Homo sapiens: one gene and its partners. The protein of the gene in region 1 interacts with the protein of each later gene in a pairwise test. Each region holds a gene or a part of one and is shown on either strand. Other genes may lie near its edges. The genes, in order: RAB3GAP1, RAB39B and RAB39A.

The links.
Region 2: the proteins of RAB3GAP1 (region 1) and RAB39B interact in a two-hybrid assay, tested with the Homo sapiens proteins (one study listed by BioGRID).
Region 3: the proteins of RAB3GAP1 (region 1) and RAB39A interact in a two-hybrid assay, tested with the Homo sapiens proteins (one study listed by BioGRID).

The regions. Positions count from the first base shown.
Region 1 is NC_000002.12:135,167,270-135,171,518, reverse strand, and holds the end of RAB3GAP1 (rab3 GTPase-activating protein catalytic subunit), read right to left. Parts: intron 3,827-4,249; coding exon of another isoform or gene 3,806-3,826; intron 2,975-3,805; coding exon 2,738-2,974; 3' UTR 1,786-2,737; coding exon of another isoform or gene 1,760-1,785; 3' UTR 809-1,759; downstream 1-808. UniProt on the Homo sapiens protein: Catalytic subunit of the Rab3 GTPase-activating (Rab3GAP) complex composed of RAB3GAP1 and RAB3GAP2, which has GTPase-activating protein (GAP) activity towards various Rab3 subfamily members (RAB3A, RAB3B, RAB3C and RAB3D), RAB5A and RAB43, and guanine nucleotide exchange factor (GEF) activity towards RAB18.
Region 2 is NC_000023.11:155,257,715-155,261,801, reverse strand, and holds the end of RAB39B (ras-related protein Rab-39B), read left to right. Parts: intron 1-572; coding exon 573-999; 3' UTR 1,000-3,567; downstream 3,568-4,087. UniProt on the Homo sapiens protein: The small GTPases Rab are key regulators of intracellular membrane trafficking, from the formation of transport vesicles to their fusion with membranes.
Region 3 is NC_000011.10:107,931,124-107,938,453, reverse strand, and holds part of RAB39A (ras-related protein Rab-39A), read right to left. Parts: intron 1-7,330. UniProt on the Homo sapiens protein: The small GTPases Rab are key regulators of intracellular membrane trafficking, from the formation of transport vesicles to their fusion with membranes.

The DNA of each region.
Region 1 (4,249 bases):
AAGCATGTGCACCTCTTAGGAGCACGGTCTCAGGCACACAGGTGGATTAAAAAACACATTGCAGTTGTAATTGCCACCTTTCTTCTAAGGAGCAGACAGTTTAGCTCAAGATATACGACAGCTGTATACTTTCTTAGCATCTCCTCTCCTGCCAGAGTGTGGCCTTTCTAAAACCCACCATGTCACTCCCCTGCACAAAACCCTTCAGTGACTCACTACCGCCCCAAAGGCAAAGCCCTAACTTGTAGCTGCGGCTTCCCCCGAACTTCTTGGTCTTGCCTTAGTTCACCTCACCATCTTCATTTCTTGCCCCTTCCCACTCTAGATACCACACTTCAGCCAAATAGAAATGTTGGCTGCCCCCCAAATAGACATTTTCCCTTATTTCTGGGATTTTGCCCATTCCGTTCCTCTGCTTGTAATACGCTTTCTGCCCCCTCCTGTCAGTTACCTTTTGCCCCAACTCTCACCCTAGAGTGGCCTTCTTCACAGTGGCTTCAAGGCTCCTGGCAAGAAGGGAGGGCAAGCCCCAATGTGCAAGGACTTGTCAAGTCTCTGTCTGTTGACCAAAGAAAGACATGGCCGAGACCAGATTGAAGAGGTGGAGAAATAAAGCACTTCACAATGAAAATCATGATTTCATTGCACACAGGGCTGGAGGAATGCCTGGTTCTCTGCAAGCCATTTCCCATACGCCCCCCATGCTTTCCCCAGTGCCTACTCAGCTTCTGGTCTCAATCCCAAAATCACACCCTCTGGGGTAATTTTCCTGATCCTCAAAGCCTGGGTGAAGAAACTCCTACAACACTTTATGACATTGCTGCATTTATTACTCCGTACTGCCAATGAATACATGAATGTAGGATTACATTCAATTATTTGTAGGATAAATGCAGGCCCTCCGATCCACACAGCAGAGTTGACTATACTCAACATTTTGTGGCAACGTGGTGTCAGTTTTCCCTGTAAGGGAGTGTGTTTTGGTTTCTGTTTTATCTTCATTGCTTGTACTGTACCTGACACAAAGTGGGTACTTAAATATATCTGTGAAATAAATACATAACTATCATAAAAATAAAATGGAGTACTTTAAAAAGGCACAAAGAATGTTCTTGAGACCACTGCCTTGTTAGGCTCAGCAGGCTGCAAACATTAGAGCTGAGACAGCACAAAACCACATGAAATTAGACTGAAATGCCTCAGCGGGAGAAAATGAAAGAAAACGCCACAGAAAGCGACACTTTCCTTTTATTAGATTCACAATGCCTTTGTAACGCCCAACCTCTCCTTTGTAGAATTTTTCTTTGTTAGAAAACAGACAAACTCTGTCCTTAGGAACCGTCTTCTACTTGGTACAGCACTGGCCTCAGGCCGCCTGCATCTGCGTGGACCAGTAAGAATGAAGTCCAGCAGCATAGAGAAAAGCATCATAAAGGCTGGGAGGTCATCCCCCAGGGCCTCCCCTACTTCACATACACAGAGACGTGTGCATATGTCACACACACACACATATTATATATAGATATGTATTTTTTTTTTTTTTTACAAAAATAACAGGGTTTGCACAGCTCTATTAATTTTTTAAAATTACACAGGCAAGGTTTATGCTTCAGTATAACCATTTTTACTTTGGATTTAAGTGGGAATTTTAGGCCTAAAAATAAGATTACCAAGCAGAGGCCATCTAGCCACACAGACACAAGACATCTTGAGCTCCATGAAACTAGAAATGTGGTGATGTCATCCTCACACGGGGGGGCTACACATCCCCATCGATTATTTTAACTAAAATACAAAAGCAAAATAGTGTGTTAAAATAATCCTCTACTCAATGCATTAGCACATATACCAAATTATACTATCTGCATGACAGTCTCTAGGTACCAAGACTGTATTTTTGCAAGTGCTATTCTCTACTTCATTAAATACAGTACCCAGCCAGCAACCACAAAAAGAGAACGCATGCTGTACAGCAAGAGAAGGGGAGGGAGACGATTTTCAGGGCCATAACTTCCATGGCAACCAAAAGAAAAATAAGTAAGACAAATCTCACATGACAGATATAAAACTAATTTGCAGTGACATTTGATATATAGTTTTATCAGAAGTAATACATTTAGGTTACAGTTACATGAAAAAGAGAAACTATGTGAAATTATAGGCTTTCTCCTAGAATATCCAAAATGCTCATCAACAGTTAATTAGTACAAGAAAGATGACCACCAGGTGATTGAATAGACAGAATGTCATGTAGTATTTTAAAAACACAGATTCTGGGACTAGAAGCTACCACCAAAATATCCAGAAATCTGAGTTAACAGGTCCTTTATTTTGCACACTTGCTGCTGATATATAGAACCACGAAGTGTTTGCACAGACCACGAATGCAGCCGCTAGCCTAGAGGCTGGTCACAGAAGAGAATGCGATGAACACCGTCCTGCCAGTGTGAGGACGGAGTGTCTGATGTGTTTGTGTCCCCCCACCACCCCCCCATATACAAAGGCCATCTCTAGGGCAGAAATCTCTCAACAGCTCAAGCCCATCCTCGCTGCCCCCTCCACGAAACGACACAGCTCAAGCTTGGTGCTGGGAAGTCTTTCCGATGCTGGTTTGATTCCTGATCACCCAACTGGACAGGGCCCTCTCCAGGACCTCCCAGGTTCTCCCTGGTACCTTCCCTCCCTCAGGAGGAGGCAGCACTGTCTCTGAAGCCACCAACGAGTAATGCTAGAAGAATCAGAAGAAGGAAGTATCTGATGAAAAGGCACCTGCAAGTCTAAAGTCCTCTTTGGTGAGAACACTGTACATCCGCTGAGGCAGAGCTTTGGAGTAGGGAGCAGGGCGCGGCACAGTGGTGCGCAAAATGAATTCCCGGCCAGCAGGGGGTGGGAAGTCTGACACGGAGTTCTGCCTTCTTTCCTCTGGGGAGCCCATTCTCTTCAATTCCTCCTCTGGTGGAGTCATAGCTGCAGCCTGGAAAAGAATCAAATGCTAAAGTCAAAAGCAGGTCAAATGCTAAACTCAGATGCTTTTGAAGGACAGATGAATTAACATAATAAAGATATGAAAATGTCCCACGTTACTCAGTAATGCAGTCAGCTATATGTTAAGATTACTCAAAAACCACATAACACAGCAAATGCAAGAAGCTTGAGACACTGCATGAGCAGCCGGGCTGGAGACAGACAGGAGGGATGATGACTGCCAGGCAATCTGCTCTGAAGAGAGAAGGCCATATTTACACATCTGATGAAAAAGGACCTCGGAGCTGTGCTGCTTTCTATGTTTCTTCCAGCAATGACCCAAGTCTACGTCTGACAGCCTCAGTCCAGTAAGGAGCTGTTTTTCTCCAGAGTGAAAAGATGATTTTCATCTTGACTCTGGGTAAGAATTTTTTAATCGATTCTTTTTAAGGTTCACTTGCCAAATTAAAAGTGGGGGCATTGGTCTTGCTTGCTGGGCAGCTAATGTGATGCCGAAGTGATAGAGGCCCATATAGCAATGACCACAAAAGAGAAGTTCGCAATATTAAAGGCATCTATTTTTTCATTGAAATGACATAAAATGCATGTTCATTTACAGCCTACAATTTTAATTCTGATTACTGTACTTTTTTTAATACCATCAATTTGGGAAAAAAAATTGTTTTGGCAATGGAAACATGAAATCATGTTGCGCTAAACATCAGCAAGGTAGGTAAGCCAAATCCAGACTGTGAGAGAGGTGGTTAGTGTTAATGACCTTATGAAATTAGAGGGATGGGAAGGAACAAGGAACTATGAGGGGCAAAGGCTATTTTGTTACCTCATCAGAAGATTCAGTCAGCTTGAGAAGGGGTAAGAAAAGAAACAGTGATGAAAGGGAAACAAGCAAGATGGTTTAAATAGGGCTAGACAAGGGAGTTCAGGATTATTTCAAAGACAGTATGCACTACATTATGGAACATGATCCTATCAAAAGAATATTCAAGACAAAGTCACACCAAACACAGCACACCCAGCTGTCAACTACAGCAGACATCTACTACTACTCATGCATCCATGGCTCAACAGGTGACATATGATGTCATTTAATGGGAGAAATGAACAACAAAAACCTAGCTCTTTTACTGGGAATTATGATGCAAAAAAAAAAAAAAGTGTTCATGGCTTGAAAAATAGAATTTAGGAATAGGTGCCTAACAGTTATTCAATCTAGCAAGTCTGAAGCGAAATCCAGTCAGTCATTTATTTGCTGAATTCCATTTAA
Region 2 (4,087 bases), on another chromosome or scaffold:
ATGATAAATGGAAAAAATGGAGTAGCAAGATACCTACTTTAAATATTTTGTTAACTATCATAAATTCATTTCTATGTTTTAAAAATCCTGTTTCAACTGCTAGCATTTGTAATGAACTCTCCACGTCACAGAACACTTTAATATCCATTGTTTCATTTTGCCTCATGGTAACACTGTGACTTGGGTATCCTATTTTGCAGAAAAGGAAGTCTCTGTCAGTTATTCAGATTTGGGGGGTGGGAGAGTTAGTTGTAGTTTTACCTGAAGGCAAGAAATAGAACTCAGTTATGTCCCAGGGTCACTCTCCAGTGCTGAATCCATGGAAAATGCCTAAAAGTTCATGAACATTCGTTTCTAGAAGATGCCCATCTCAAAGTTTGGCCCAATTGGAAACTCACATATTAGTAGTAGTATGGAATGCCATTTGTATTCCTTTGTTTTTTTAAAAAAAAAGAAAATCATTTTTATTAAAGGACTGTGTCACTAACCAGGAACACTTGAATATACTGAGTTCATTGACATGCAGAAGTTTGGGCACAGCCTTTACTCTTTACTTCTTTCTTGTGTTTTAGATCCATCACTCGCGCCTACTACAGGAACTCAGTAGGTGGTCTTCTCTTATTTGACATTACCAACCGCAGGTCCTTCCAGAATGTCCATGAGTGGTTAGAAGAGACCAAAGTACACGTTCAGCCCTACCAAATTGTATTTGTTCTGGTGGGTCACAAGTGTGACCTGGATACACAGAGGCAAGTGACTCGCCACGAGGCCGAGAAACTGGCTGCTGCATACGGCATGAAGTACATTGAAACGTCAGCCCGAGATGCCATTAATGTGGAGAAAGCCTTCACAGACCTGACAAGAGACATATATGAGCTGGTTAAAAGGGGGGAGATTACAATCCAGGAGGGCTGGGAAGGGGTGAAGAGTGGATTTGTACCAAATGTGGTTCACTCTTCAGAAGAGGTTGTCAAATCAGAGAGGAGATGTTTGTGCTAGTCAGTTCTTTTATTTCCAAAACATGCTCTCCTACTTGAACTGAAAAGTAAGAGAAATAAATAGAATCTTTGTGTAACTGATGAGAACTCAACCTCCATTTGGATACCAAGTGAGCCTCCCTCTCAGGGGGACTCTGACAGACTCGTGTGCGGGTGGATGGGGGTGCCTGAGTGCTGTGACCAAGGGACTGAATTGCTGACATGGGCCAGGCCAGGCACTGTTTTGTGGCCCATGCTAGGCAGTGGCTGCTCCATGAGCCCTTTGTGGACCACATGTTAAAGGCCTGGGGTTTAGGAAGCTAAGTCCCAGGAAAACATACCTACAGACAGGACAACTGTTCCTTGGTATTTGAGCTCACTTATAGGCCATGAACATAAAGAAATACATAAAGGGGAAAAAAGTTTCACAATGGGGACAATTAGCATAACTAAACAAAGATTATGAGCTCTACTTATTCCGTGAGAATACCCTGCACCAAAGGTGTTTGCTGGGTTTGGTTAAAAGGTACCAATTAGCTTTTAACAGCTTTCTGTAAAATGAGGAACACAGACCAAAAGGTCTGGTGTTCAAGTAAAAATGATGTGACTATGGAAAGGAAGGCAATCGACACAGTTATTAGCACATTTCAGAAAATGAACACCCTTGTGATAGAATTACCAGCTGTATGAAACAAATTGTCCCATGCAAATTACCCTATAACTAGGAAAGAGACACTATAACCCAAATGCCATACCCCCTTTTTCCTTTGACCATGCCTGGGGTTTCAATGCCTTGGCACCTGCAATCTGGAAGTAAACAGTCTGCTTGCTTCTTCAGGCACGTGACAGTGACAACACAGTGACTGCCTCTGAAAAGAGCCCTGAGGCAAACACTCTCTCCTGCTGAACAGGAGGCACTGTAACCCTTACAAACAGCTTACAGTTACTTGGGCTACTTATTTGATCATCATAACAGGCCTACGAGGTTTTTGCCCCATTTTACAGAATAGTAAACTAAGAGCCATGAAAATCACTTGGCCAGGGTCAAGGACTCGTGACTCCTAGCTCTTTTCACTGCATCATACTGCTGTCAGATGAATAAATGATTATGAATTTGTTTACTTGGGAAGAGATATGACTATAAATAAATGTTCTCTACATGTTAGGATATGTTTTCCTTATTGATTACAACTCAGCTATAATCCTGAGGGAACATGGGAAGGAATCAAAGGTAAAGCCCATTCAGGCATTATTGACAAGAGGGCTTTAAACAAGTGAATAATTGCACAACTAAAAAGACATTAGAACTGTGTGGGCTATAAGTGTTCTTATCACTGAGACACAGTGGATTTTTATTGAAAGGAACCACGTACAGCAATGCGGAGTGGGATAGGGATAAAATACCCACCCCAAAATGACCTTGGCCACCTGTCTGCCATATACGTACACTGAGTTCCTGTCTACCCAAGAGAGTCAGCCCTTAATTCTCAGGTGAACAAACAGCTAACTGCATCAGCAAATTGGAATGGCTGGCTTGAAGTTTCCATTATTTTCTTGAAGAGAGGTGATGCTTTAAATTACTTTTTGGATTGTAGCCAGTTCAGCTAGGCAAAAGCCATACTTTTCACAATTAAAAAAAAAAACTATTCTGACTAGAGTCAGGTTTCTCATATCCATTGTGATAGGAAGGCCTAAGAATGGCAAATCGCTTTGAGATATAATATTGAACTTCAGTATGAATGTGACCGAATCTGAAACTTTGGGAATTTGCTTTAGCCAGAATAAAGAAACCAAATCATGAAAATTATGGAAGACTATTCTGCCACCTGTGCCCCAAGTTGGATGAGCAAACCACTTTGGATCAGTTCACAGCATTAACTACAAGTGAACTGATCATCTTCTCTATATTCATTTCACAAGAGCTGGCTTAGGTGGGGTAATTAAATTGCCACCTTCGTGGTTGTAAAAGACAAACAAAACATGGCAAATTTCATTAACACAAAATTTCATCAACTGCTATACTGAATTATGTTTAGAAGATTCTGAAAGCAAGATTATCCAGTGGGTAAATGAGAGTCGACTGGATTCTGTCAGTTCAAAAAAGGAAAGAAACAAAACTTCCCTACAATTTTCTTCACTAAAATTTATTATATGTACAGTATTCCCACTCCTGGCATTTTCTGGCAGGTTTAAAAATATTCAGCATAAATCCAGCAGAGGTGGCTGAGCTTAATTGCTTAAATAAGTTCTAGAAAATTTAAAAATCATTTTAGTAGAATTCAGTACCATTGTCACTGCAATAAGTGGGTTTTAGAAAATAAGTGTGAAAAGAATCAGGTGTTAATATAATACTAAGGATAAAGCTTTAGAAGCTATTTTACTACATAGGTAAAGAAAAGATAAACTAACTTGTAACAAAGACCACAACTGCATGTTGGATTAGATTGTCTCATATTTCAGAATAAAATGTACTGTATACTTTTCCTCACTTTGTTGTGCACTGTAATGAAATGTGAAAAATGCTTTATTTAGCTGTATGTGAATGAAAATATGCTTGTATTTAGTAAAATGATTGATTATGTGACTGTGAGATTCCAAGTGTGTGTTATAGCTATTTCCAGAATCTGTTACTACAGCGTAGCAACTACTACCAAGGATATCAATAAGATGTGACATATACCATACACAATCGTATTCACCATTACCTTAAAGCCAGAAAGAGAATATAATTTTTGAAAGTTATCTGACCATCATATCAAAAGTCCCTGGGACCTCAATACTTCCTGGTGAGCATATGCCACTTTGAGAAAAGTTGGTTCTGTCAAGCCTAAATCTTCATCATGATGATTTTTAATCAAGAGTCTTAATTCTGTTGCCAAGTAGTTGATTACAACTATTATGTTCCCTGGAAAGTCTTCTTTTTTCCAGGCTAAGTTGCCTCAGCTTTTTCAAATCCTACTACGGCATGCTTTTTATGCCAGGATCACTTACAGTGTGGCACCAACATAAGAACACAATAGTTCAGCACATTTCCCAGGATTGATAGTACACATGAGGGTGGGGGGAGGGTTAAAAAAAAAAGGAAAGATAATGGATTCTGAGTCTGGGCA
Region 3 (7,330 bases), on another chromosome or scaffold:
CTAAAAATGTCTGGCTACACAGATCATCTTTTGGCACTCTGGTGCACTTGTTAGAAACGATGCTGTCTCATTCTTTTTTTTTTTTTTTTTTTTTGAGACGGAGTCTTGCTCTATTGCCCAGACTGGAGTGCAGTGGCGTGATCTCGGCTCACTGCAACCTCCTCTTCCTGGGTTCAAGCAATTCTCCTGCCTCCGCCTCTCGAGTAGCTGGGATTACAGGTGTGCACCATAACCGGCTAATTTTTGTATTTTTAGTAGAGACTGGGTTTCACCATGTTGGCCAGGCTGGCCTCGAACTCCTGACCTCAGGTGATCCGCCCGGCTCGGCCTCCCAAAGTGCTGGGATTACAGGCGTGAGCCACCATGCCTGGCCATCTCATTCTTATATACCATTTTACTCTCAAACACCATAAAATAGACACTTTGGGGGTGACTGCTCATTTCCCTTCTCTGTGAATTTCTCTTTCCAAAAAAGTGGACCTTTACAGATACATTTACATTATCTGACCCATAATACCTACTTAGTATATTTATGTTATAATACATTTGTATTATATGTCTGTGTAACTCAATAACCTGACTGCAGGGGAGCTGATTCACTGGATAGTTAAGTAGTCAATGAGATATTTTTTCTTTCAAGAGTTTGAATAAGAGGCTCAGAGACTGAGAGCTAGGAGCCAACAGAGTTGGAGAAGGGAAATAGACTAGAGGGGAAGTCCACAAACTCTTGTTTTAAAATTTTTCATACTTCCTAGCTGGGCATGGTGGCAGGTGCCTGTAATCCCAGCTACTTGGGAGGCTGAGGCAGGAGAATCACTTGAACCCAGGAGGCGGAGCTTGCAGTGAGCCGAGATTGCGCCACTGCACTCCAGCCTGGGCGACAGAGCAAGACTCCATCTCAAAAAAAAAAAAAATAGTAATAATTCCATACTTCCAAACACCTGGATGTTCAGTGAGCTTTTGCTTTCATGAAATCTGTATCATTTATAATTTATTCCCTATTAAACTAATTTGGGCCTGGTGCAGTGGCTCATGGCTGTAATCCCAACACTTTGGGAGGCCAAGGAGGGAGGATCACTTGAAGCAAGAAGTTCAAAACCAGCCTGGGCAATACAGCGAGACCCTGTCTCTACAAATTTTTTTTTTTTTTAATTAGCTGGGTGCCATAGCATGTGCTTGTAGTCCTAGCTACTCAGGAGGCTAAGGTAAGAGGATCACTGGAGCCCAAGAGTTTGGGCTGCAGTGAGCTATGATTGTGCCACTGCACTTCAACCTGGGCTACACAGCAAAACTCTGTCTCTAAAAAACAAATAAATAAATGAATTTGGCTAGATTTCTACTACTTACAATACACTTTTAACTAAGACATTATATTACCTGATAATAGAACTATAGCTGACCTTTCTATTAACAATAACTTGGAACTACAGTAGACTGCAGTGATTATGGTCATCTCTGCTCTGTTACCTATGCAATTATGGACCCACCAATCATTTTCTTCATTTGTTTTTTTTTTTTTGGAGGGGGAGTCTCGCTCTGTCACCCAGGCTGGAGAGCAGGGGCGCAATCTCGGCTCACTGCAACCTTGCAACCTCCACCTTCTGGGTTCAAGGGATTTTCCTGCCTCAGCCTCCCAAGTAGCTGGGATTATAGGTGTGCACCACCATGCACAGCTAATTTGTTTTTGTATTTTTAGTAGAGATGGGGTTTCACCATGTTTGCCAGACTGGTACCAATCATTTTCTACTGAAGGAACAAAAAATCGTTTTCTTTTGAAGGCCATGAACCACAGTGAGGGAGCTGAGAATCAAATGAGGGACTTTTTAAAAAGAAACAAAACCAAAAATAACTAATTTAGTTTAGAGATTTTAAAAAGTCTCTTAAGAAGAAATTTAAAATGTTAATATTGCTTGCTTTTAAAATTAAGAACAGAGTACATAAATTAAATCACTTTGAAACATTAACTTTATATGGATGTTTGGAAGAGGCAGAAGAGAAAACAGACACATGCGGTAGCCAGTGGGAGAAGAGAAGATAAGCCAGTGGGATAAGGGAAGATAAGCTAAAAGGAAATGGAAGAGTAAGAGACACATTAAAATAAAAATGGGGTGGGGGGAAGAGGATGAAAGTAAACATCAGTATGGATAGACAGAGGAAAGGGGTAAAGAAAAAATAAAAATAAGCTGGAGGGGGACTAATGTCAGAGGCATTCGAACCAGAGTGACTCCATTTTGAGCAAGGGCTAGGAAAATGACGCCAGGTGCAGTGGCTCACGCCTGTAATGCCACCACTTTGGGAGGCCGAGGTGGGCGGATCACTTGAGGTCAGGAATTCGAGACCAGCCTGGCCAACATGCTGAAACCCTGTCTCTACTAAAAATACAAAAACTAGCTGAGTATGGTGGCACACACCTGTAATCCCAGCTACTTGGGAGGCTGGAGAATTGCTTGAATCCAAGAGGGAGAGGTTGCAGTAAGCCAGGATGACACCACTGCCCTCCAGCCTGGGTGACAGAGCAAAACTGTCTCAAAAAAAAAAAAAAAAAAAAAAAAAGTGGCCAGGACTTGCTGGGCTGCGTTCCCCAGAAAGTTGGGCATTCCTAGCCTCTAGATGTTTATGGCTAAGGGAACAAATTAATAATGTTTACTAAACAGACCCAGACTTGGGAGTGTCCAGATATTCCAATATCTGGAGAACAAAGGCATTCCTAATTTTGCTTTAAAGATAATAATATCGATTCTTGCAAAATGTGGTAATTAAGAAAATTAATCCTTTATTAGCTGGGCGCGGTGGCTCACACCTGTAATCCCAGCACTTTGGGAGGCCGAGGCAGGTGAATCACCTGAGGTCAGGAGTTCGAGACAAGCCTGGCTAACAAAGTGAAACCTTGTCCCTACTGAAAATACAAAAAATTAGCCGGGCATGGTGGCAGGCGCCTGTAGTCCCAGCTACTCGGGAGGCTGAGGCAGGAGAATGGTGTGAACCCGGGAGGTGGAGCTTGCAGTGAGCCGAGATCGCACCACTGCACTCCAGCCTAGGCGACAGAGCCAGACTCTGTCTCCAAAAAAAAAAAAAGAAGAAGAAAGAAAATTAATCCTTTATCACAAACCCTTGTGGCAGAGAGCACATCTCCTCATATATATACAAGCATTGTACCTAGGGCGGATGCGTTCCTCCTGCTACTTTCAGGTACGTCCTACTCTGTCTGTGTAGTAGCTGTTCTTTCACCACTTTACTTTCTTAATAAACTTGCTTTCATTTTACACTGCAGACTTGCCCTGAATTCTTTCTTGTGCAAGATCCAAGAACCCTCTCTTGGGGTCTGGATCGGGACCCCTTTCCTGTAACAGTAAGACACCTGGCAAGGAGAAAGATGCATAGCAGAAGAGGAGCTAGGGGAAAAAACATGGAGAGGCAGGCAAAGGCCGGGAAGATTTAGTGGTAATAGTTAGGGGCTGCTCCCAGATTCTGTGGGGAAGGGAGAGGAGGGAGGCTGTCTCTATTTTTTTTTTTTTTTTTTTTTTGAGACGAAGTCTCGCTCTTGTCCCCCAGGCTGGAGTGAAATGGTGTAATCTCGGCTCACCGCAACCTCCGCTTCCTGGGTTCAAGCGATTCTCCCACCTCAGCCTCCTGAGTAGCTGGGATTACAGGCGCCTGCCACCACGCCTGGCTAATTTTTGTATTTTTAGTAGAGATGGGGGTTTCACCATGTTTGGCCAGGCTGGTCTCGAACTCCTGACTTCAGGTGATCCACTCGCCTTGGCCTCCCAAAGTGCTGGGATTACAGGTGTGAGCCACCACGCCCGGCCTGAGGCTTTCTCTTATAGCACTTACTGCTTACAGCCCTTAACCAAGTTAATTAATTGGTTAAGTTTGTCTGCAGGTCTTCCATTGCTACAAACCTCAAGTATTTAGTGGTTCTGCTCAAAGAATATGCTAAGGCAACTTATCAAGGGAGCTATTCCCAAATTATACTCCTTAGAGCACCAGTTATCATAGATTTTCTTTTTCCTCTTTTTAGAGACAGGGTCTAGCTCTGTCACCCAGGCTGGAGTGCAGTGGCATGATCATAGCTCACAGAAGCCTCGACCTCCTGGGCTCAAACCACCCTCCTACTTCAGCCTCCTGAGCAGCTGGGGATGCAGGTCCATGCCACCATGCCCAGCTAATTAAAAAAATTTTTTTTTGGTTAGAGACAGGGTCTTGATTTGTTGTCTAGGCTGGTCTTGAACTCCTAGCTTCAAGTAATTCTCCTGCCTCAGCTTCCCAAAGTGTTAGGATTACAGACGTGACTCACCGCATCCAGCCTAGATTTTCATATTTTAAAAATAGCCCCTAAAATAAATTGGGAAATACTAGGTTAATCAAAGTTAAACAGGTTTCTTTGCTGCAATACTTCTTCGAGCCTTTGATATGAATTTTTAAGAGAGTGCCATATGGAATACAGGGATTTCCAAACTTACTTGATCACAGAATGCTTCTTTTAAAAAGAATCACAGGCTGGGTGCGGTGGCTTACGCTTGTAATCCCAGCACTTTGGGAGGCTGAGGCGGGTGGATCACTTGAGGTCAGGAGTTCGAGACCAGCCTGGCCAATATGGTGAAACCTCGTCTCTACTAAAAGTACAAAAATTAGTTGAGCTTGGGGCGCCTGTAATCCCAGCTACTCAGGAGGCTGAGGCAGGAGAATCGCTTGGACCTGGAAGGCAGAGGTTGCAGTGAGCCGAGATTGCGCCACTGCACAAGAGCAAGACTCCATCTCAAAAAAAAAAAAAGAATCACAGGTGAGGCACAGTAGCTCATGCCTGTAATCCCAGCACTTTGGGAGGCCGAGGCGGGCAGATCACTTGAGATCAGGTGTTCGAGACCAGCTTGATGAAACCTCCATCTCTACTAAAAATACAAAAATTGGCCAGGTGCTGTGGCGCATGCCTGTGGTCCTAGCTACTCGGGAGGCTGAGGGAGGAGAATCGCTTGAACCTGGGAGGTGGGGGTTGCAGTGAGCCGATCGTTTCACTGCACTCCAGCCCCAGGTGACAGAGTGAGACTCTGACTCAAAAAAAAAAAAAAAAAAAAAGAAAGAATAAAAAAGAAGGAAAGAAATACACACACACACACACACACACACACACACACACACATATATATATATAAAGAATCACAGGAAAGAGTGTTCTGCAGAGCACTCCTTGACAGCACTGCACGAGGAGGACATTAATACCCCAAAGGCCAGGTAACGTCAGATAAAAGGCCAAACCTGGCTCAAAGCCTAGAGGTTTCCCATTCTACAGCTAACATTGCTATGTATTTATCTCATATTATATTCATATAACTTTAAACGCTTTTTATGGGAAAAGTTCAAAATTTCTATTCTTACACTTAATGCTCTCCATACACCTAGCTCTTCCAATATAGTTATCCTTATTAACACTGTATTAAACAATATTCTCGTTTCCTTTACTGCTAAACTAATCCCAGCACTTTAGGAGGCTGAGGTAGGCAGATTACACGAGCCCAGGAGCTCGAGACCAGCCCAGCCACCATGTTGAAACCCCATTTCTACTAAAAATACAAAAATTAGCTGGGCATGGCGGCACACACCTGTAGTCCCAGCTACTTGGGAGGCTGAGGCATAATAATTGCTTGAACCTGGGAGGCATAGGTTGCAGTGAGCTAAGATCTGGCCACCACACCCAGCCTGGATGAGAGAGCGAGATTGTCTCAAAAAACAAAACAAAACCAAAATTTATAAAAAAGTGATTACTAGCTTCCCCTAACACCTACAGTGCCAAAGGCATCTTTCCTACATCCTAGGCACATAATGGCCCAGTCTAAGTGTCTCCTTGTAACTAAGATCTCCCCAATGAATTGAGAGCCGAAAGAATCTATACCATGTTGGCCTCACTTGCTTAAAAGAAACTTTGCTTGGTATAGAGCTGCTCTTTCTCCTTCCCCTGAACTGACACACAGTGTGCTTATAACCCAGCTTTGCTCATGTAGATGATGGTAACATCCTAGGCATGGCAGAAAATTAAGGAAGAAGGAAACTGAATGATGGTCTGGTGCAGAACCACTCCACCAACTTGGACCACTCTATACACAAGAGAGAAATAAACTTTCATCTTTAATGAAGGCACTGTAATTCTAAATTTCTTTAATATACAAATCTACAGTTATGTTCACATATACATTATTTTTCTAAATCTTTTTCACTTGGATTTTGTCCCTTTTTATTTCAGGCAAGTAGTTAGCCTCTATTAGCATGTTAGTCTGAACATTGAAAACTAAGGCTGGCCTGGCGCAGTGGTTCAGGCTTGAAATCCCAGCATTTTGGGAGGCCGAGGTGGGTGGACTGCTTCAGCCCAGGAGTTTCAGACCAACCTGGGCAACATGGCCAAACCCTGTCTTTACAAAAAAAGATACAAAAATTAGCTAGGCGTGGTGGTGTGTGTCTGTAGTCTCAGCCACTTGGGAGGCTGAGGCAGGAGAATTGCTTGAGCCTGGGAGGTGGAGGCTGCAGTGAGCCAACATTGTGCCACTGCATTCCAGCCTGAGTGACAGACCCTGTCTCAAAAAAAAAAAAAAAAAAAAGAAGGAAAGAAAGAAAACGAAAGCTAATCACGATCATAATTACCAACTCACTAACCTATTGTTCTGTAATACATTTATTATGCTTTCAAGCTACCTCATGAGCTAAGTAGGTTCCTTTTTGTCAGTTTATATCCAATCACCAATAAACCTTCAAACATGACATTTCCCACAAATTCTTCATGATATGATTATGACTAATGACAGGAATACATCTTCATGACCTACAGTACCTTTCTATAAAATAAAATATGCAATGATATCTATTATTCAAAATTAGAATCTGTAATTTCTTGATGAAAGATACAGAATGATTTAATAGTAATTGTTTTAAATGCAATCTTAAGGTAAAACATTCTGGTAAATGAGAGAAAAGCAAGTATTTGGAGGTAGCTACTGAAATACGTATGTATTTACAAACAGAACTTTGGTAAAGAGCCAAACAAAATAAATTATGACTCACTGTCAGTAAACATTCCCTAAATGTCCTTGCATTATAATGCGAGAGTTACTGTTTGGTTTTAATAATGTACATAAAATGAATTATTATTTACATTCTTCTTCAAGGCATTAAAAAACAATCATCTAGGCCAGGCGCGGTGGCTCACGCGCCTGTAATCTCAGCACTTTGGGAGGCTGAGGCAGGTGGATCACCCGAGGTCGGGAATTCAAGACCAGCCTGACCAACATGGGGAAATCCCCGTCTCTACTAAAAATACAAAATTAGCCAGGTGTAGTGGTGC